Linked DNA regions of Homo sapiens: region 2 is linked to region 1. A link means that fine-mapping ties the variant in region 1 to the expression of a gene that starts in the linked region. Tissue or cell type: thyroid. Region 1 holds a variant in brackets; the other region holds the start of a gene. All regions are shown on one strand. Distances are between the middles of the regions. Region 1 overlaps LOC124904783 (a long non-coding RNA gene). Region 2 holds the start of VN1R1 (vomeronasal 1 receptor 1).

What was found. PIP is the estimated chance that this variant, and not a neighbour inherited with it, causes the effect. A credible set is the group of variants that fine-mapping cannot tell apart.
Region 2: VN1R1 starts here. The variant in region 1 is the best candidate, but not a certain one, in a credible set for the expression of VN1R1 in thyroid (GTEx, PIP 0.73).

What each region holds. Positions count from the first base shown.
Region 1 is chr19:57,716,640-57,719,560 of GRCh38, reverse strand. It overlaps LOC124904783 (a long non-coding RNA gene), which reads right to left. Exons shown (of 2, transcript XR_007067359.1): 2 at 2,164-2,394. Among named protein-coding and RNA genes, the nearest start is that of ZNF154, 8.9 kb to the right of the region's middle. The variant A/C (reference allele first, on the strand shown) is at 1,198.
Region 2 is chr19:57,455,722-57,458,642 of GRCh38, reverse strand. It overlaps VN1R1 (vomeronasal 1 receptor 1), which reads left to right and starts at 1,503. Exons shown (of 1, transcript NM_020633.4): 1 at 1,503-2,921. The coding sequence starts at 2,157.

The sequences.
Region 1 (2,921 bases):
GGGCTTTGGGAGACAAATCATGTGACCTGGATGCCAGTTTTACTGTAGGTTTGGAGGTAACCATGAAGAGAGATCAGTTGTAACAACTTCTAGAGCACCTGGGAGCATGAGTTTGGTCACTGGTTCCCATCCAGTGTTCCATATTTCCAAGCACTTATTGGGAAGCTGGCCCCTGCTTCTTGTCAAGGAGTCTGTGTTCAGAATTTAATAGGCAGGTGTCCTTGTCTGGAGGACCTCTAGGAGCCAGGTGGTAATTATAATTGGTATAGAAACACTGGGTATGACTAATAGGGAGTTGAGGAGATTGCGGCACACTACAAGGGATGTGCCACTTCTTTTTTTTGAGATGGAGTTTCATTCTTGTTGCCTAGGCTGGAGTGCAATGGCGTGATCTTGGCTCACTGCAACCTCCACCTACTGGGTTCAAGTGACTGTCCTGCCTCAGCCTCCTGAGTAGCTGGGATTATAGGCATGCATCACCTATGCCCGGCTAATTTTGTATTTTTTTTTTTTTTTTTGAGACGGAGTCTGGCTCTGTTGCCCAGGCAGGAGTGCAGTGGTGCAATCTTGGCTCACTGCAAGCTCCACCTCCCAGGTTCTTGCCATTCTCCTGCCTCCACCTCCCGAGTAGCTGGGACTAAAGGTGCCCGCCACCACACCCGGCTAATTCTTTTGTATTTTTTAGTAGAGACGGAGTTTCACCATGTTAGCCAGGATGGTCTCGATCTCCTGACCTCGTGATCCGCCCGCCTTGGCCTCCCAAAGTGCTGGGATTACGGGCGTGAGCCACTGCGCCCAGCCCTAATTTTGTATTTTTAGTAGAGACAGGGTTTCTCCATGTTGGTCAGGCTGGTCTCAAACTCCCGACCTCAGGTGATCCGCCTGCCTCGGCCTCCCGAGTCCTGGGATTACAGGCGTGAGCCACGCACCTGGCCTGGGATGTGCCACTTCTAAAGGTACATGCTCAGATGTTCCCATACTATGGCTATATAGGATGAGAGTATACAGAAAGTTTCAGAACTTCCACAGCTATGTCTCTTTTGTGGTCAGCATCACTCCCAGGGCAAATCTAAACATTTTGTGGATTCCCATAGACTCTAGATGGCTCAACTCAAGACCACTGCTGGGGCTGGGTGCAGTGGCTCACGCCTGTAATCCCAGCACTTTAGGAGGCTGAGGCGGGCGGATCACGAGGTC[A/C]GGATATTGAAACCATCCCGGCTAACACGGTGAAGCCCCGTCTCTACTAAAAATACAAAAAATTAGCCAGGCGTGGTGGTGGGCATCTGTAGTCCCAGCTACTTGGGAGGCTGAGGCAGGAGAATGGCATGAACCCAGGAGGCGGAGCTTGCAGTGAGCCGAGATCGCACCACTGCACTCCAGCCTGGGTGACAGAACGAGACTCTGTCTCAAAAAAAAAAAAAAAAGAAAAAAAAAAAGACCATTGCTGGGTGTGTAAGTGGGTAGGAAAACCAAGATTGAAAGAAGGAAGATCTAGCATTTCAGGGACATGGCTTTGCAACTTAGCCAGTGTTCCTGGTGAATCATGTGGAAATAGCTTTCTTGGTTGCCACTTTTTGCTGTCACTGAGGCAGGGCTGCTCCTGAAGCAAGAGGCAAGAGAGGATAGAGTCTATATAGGGTTGCCTATAGGATTTGTCTGTGTTTTCCCAGTTTTCTTTTTTGTTTTGAGACAGGGTCTCTCTCTGTCAACCCAGGATAGAATGCAGTGGCACTATGATAGCTTACTGTAACCTTGAACTCTTGGGCTCAAGTAATCCTCAGCCTCCTAAGTAGCTGCGATTACAGGCATGTGCCATCACACCTGGCTAACTTTTTTGTTTGTTTTTGTTTTTGGAGATGGAGTCTCACTGTATTGCTCAAGCTGGTCTTGAACTCCTGGCTTCAAGTGATCCCAAAGCACTGGGATTACAGGCATGAGCCAGCATGCCTGGCTGGTTTTCCTAATTTCTTAAAATGAACTGTCATTTATTTGTGAACTCTCTTCTTGTATAATAATATAGGCTATAAATTTCCCTGTAAGTACTGCTTTAGCAGTATCCCCCAAATTTTGATATAGTGTGCACTTGTTTTGTGTGAGATGGAATTAGTTTAAAATTGGACTGGAAAAGCTCTAGTTTTGTCTGTAGGGACTTTAGGTATCTCATTTTGACATTTAAATGCAGTGAGCTTTATTATTATTGTTTAACATCTGGAAGATCCCATGACAATATGGAGGGCAAGTTTGACTGCTGATGGTTTCTGGTTGGCATACATGATTAGGTAGGCACTCTGGCTCAACTGTGTTACCCCAGAAGGGTATAAAATCCCTGCTGGGATCCTCTGACTTGAGCTCTCCTGAAGCCAGCATTTCTCTCTCAGATATTGGTGGCTTGATCTGGAAGTGAATCATATCAGTGTATGAATGGGAGTCTGGAAAACTGCCTGGATTTGTGTCTGACATAGCATATGGGCACGCATTCTTTCTCTTGCTGCACCATATCCTTTGCCTTAACAAAACCTCACGCGAGTATTCTCTGTGGAGTTTTGTGAGTATTTTCAATTACATTTTTGAAATTTTTTCATTTGGTGATGAAAATGGGATATTTGCTATGATCTCTGAGTCCATTTTAAATAATAATGGCTAAGGAGTTATTGGGCAGAATGAAATATGGTAGAGGCTGGTGAGGAAGATTTTTTGTGAATAGGTTGGCTTCCAGTCCTTGGATTGAGATTGCACAAGTTATGTGATTCACTCACAAACAGGAGGAAGAATATAAGTAGGACCTGGAGTCTGTGGGTCGGAGGGGATAACTAAATGTCCTGCAAAACACCCAAACACCTCCCATTAGGCCCACCTCCAACACTGGAGGTCACATTTCAACATGAGATTTGGAAGGGACACACATCTAAACTATACCAGCT
Region 2 (2,921 bases), 260 kb after region 1:
AGATTAAAGCAAAGAATCAGGAACTATCTTGAAAATAAATGATGAGTTCATATAAATAGGAAAAACATTTGTCAACAAGTGGTTTGTGGGAATCTAAAAGGTTTTCATACCTCAGAGCCTGAGTTTTTTTTTTTTTTTTTTGAGACCGAGTTTCACTCTTGTTGCTCAGGCTGGAGTGCAATGGCATGATCTCGGCTCACTGCAACCTCCGCCTCTGGGGTTCAAACGATTCTCCTGCCTCAGCCTCCCGAGTAGCTGGGATTACAGGCATGCGCCACCACCTCTGACTAATTTTTGTATTTTTAGTAGAGACGGGGTTTCTCCCTGTTGGTCAGGCTGGTCTCGAACTCCCGACCTCAGCTGATCCACCAGCCTCGGCCTCCCAAACTGCTGGGATTACAGGCGTGAGCCACCTCTCGCCTGAGAATCTTGATACTGCTGTGTTATTGATTGCTCCACCCCTAAAGAGATGTAGTTATTCATGGGAGAAAATACCTCATAATTTTCCCTGATGATAGCAATTCCATAGAGACACCAAAAGAATCTAAATTATGGCCGGGCGAGGTGGCTCATCCCTGTAATCCCAGCACTTTGGGAGGCCGAGGCGGGCGGATCACGAGGTCAGGAGATCGAGACCATCCTGGCTAACACGGTGCAACCCCGTCTCTACTAAACACACACACACACACACACACACACACACACACACTAGCCGGGCGTGGTGGTGGGCGCCTGTAGTCCCAGCTACTCAGGAGGCTGAGGCAGGAGAATGGCGTGAACCCAGGAGGCTTCAGCCTCCCGAGTAGCTGGGACTACAGGCACGCACCACAACACCCAGCTAATTTTTGTATTTTTAGTAGAGACGGGGTTTCACCATGTTGGCCAGGATGGTCTCCATCTCCTGACCTTGTAATCCACCCGCCTCAGCCTCCCAAAGTGCTGAGATTACAAGCGTGAGCCACCGTGCCTGGCCGCAGTTACTATTTCTTTTGTGATTGATATATATGAATATTGTGCAATGAAATTCCCTCCCAATTGAATTATCTTTCCCTAAAAATAAACCCAAGCTTTCTGGAACATATTGAATTTCCTATTTAACAAGTTTTAAGGATATCTTAGGTGTTTCTGGGATTAGTATTTATTTTCAGGATCTTTTGCATTTACTTGTGAGAAATGGCATTGAGATAAAAATGTGTGGGCTCAAGGTGGTCATGGTTATTTCTACGGAGTCAATTCACAATCTCTAGACCTGTCCGGTGGAAAATAACAGAAATATATGTGCTTAAAATAAAATATACCATGATGCAATGTTGATTGTTCCAAAAATTATAGTTTTTAAAAATTCTTCAAGTTAGCATTTGTACTGTGCTGAAGGCCTTGTTACCAATTGTATTGTAGCGTTTTTTTAATTTCTTTTTTTTTTTTTTTTGAGACAGAGTCTCGCTCTGTCGCCCAGGCTGGAGGGCAATGGTTTGATTTCAGCTCACTGCAACCTCTGCCTCCCAGGTTCAAGCGATTCTCCTGCCTCAGCCTCCCGAGTAGCTGGGACTAGCACGCGCCGCCATGCCCGGCTAATTTTTGTATTATTAGTATTTTGTATTATTAGTAGAGACAGGGTTTCACCATGTTGGCCAGGATGGTCTCCATCTTGGCCTCCCGAAGTGCTGGAATTACAGGTGTGAGCCACTGCACCCGGCCTAAAATTTGTTTCAATGCATCAATAACAATGGTGTTTACTAAAATATTAGTGTGGAAAAGGTTTTATGGTGTATTATTTTTGCTTTTCATATCTCCAGGCTACTTAATTGAAGGTTTTATTGAAATAAGTGTAGACTCACAAGCAGTCATAAGAAATAATACAGAAAAAGCCCTGTCCATATTACCCAGGGTTCCGTCATGATTACATTTTGCAAACTATAGTATAATATCACTCTAATGATATTGACTCTTCTGTGTTCTGTTTTTATATATTTCCCTAGTTTTGCTTGTATTTACTTGTTGCATGTGTGTAAGCCCTGAGTTTTATAGGTTTGATTTGTGGATCTGTTGTGCGGTTGAGCCCTCATTCATTCACCTGCTTCTCTGCAGTTGGACACACAAGCAATTGCCTTTGCACGAACAGGGACAATCTTAATTTCTGTTTAAGATGAGAAAATATGGTTGGAGACACATTAAAACTTCTGTCTCCACTGATGACAAGATACTTCTTTCTGCTTTTTTATTCTACTGATTCTTCAGACCTCAATGAAAATCAACATCCCCTAGATTTTGATGAAATGGCTTTTGGAAAAGTAAAATCAGGGATTAGCTTCCTCATTCAGACTGGAGTTGGGATCCTGGGAAATTCCTTTCTCCTTTGTTTTTATAACTTAATTTTGTTCACTGGACACAAGCTGAGACCCACGGACTTGATTCTCAGCCAACTGGCCTTGGCTAACTCCATGGTCCTTTTCTTTAAAGGGATACCTCAGACAATGGCAGCTTTTGGATTGAAATATTTGCTGAATGACACTGGATGTAAGTTTGTCTTTTATTATCACAGGGTGGGCACAAGAGTTTCCCTCAGCACCATCTGCCTTCTCAATGGATTCCAAGCCATTAAGCTCAACCCCAGTATATGCAGGTGGATGGAGATCAAGATTAGATCCCCAAGGTTTATTGACTTCTGTTGTCTCCTCTGCTGGGCCCCCCATGTCTTGATGAATGCATCTGTTCTTCTATTAGTGAATGGCCCACTGAATAGCAAAAACAGTAGTGCAAAAAACAATTATGGATACTGTTCTTACAAAGCATCAAAGAGATTTAGCTCATTACATGCAGTCTTATATTTTTCCCCTGATTTTATGAGTTTGGGCTTCATGGTCTGGGCCAGTGGCTCCATGGTCTTCTTCCTCTACAGACACAAGCAGCAAGTCCAACAC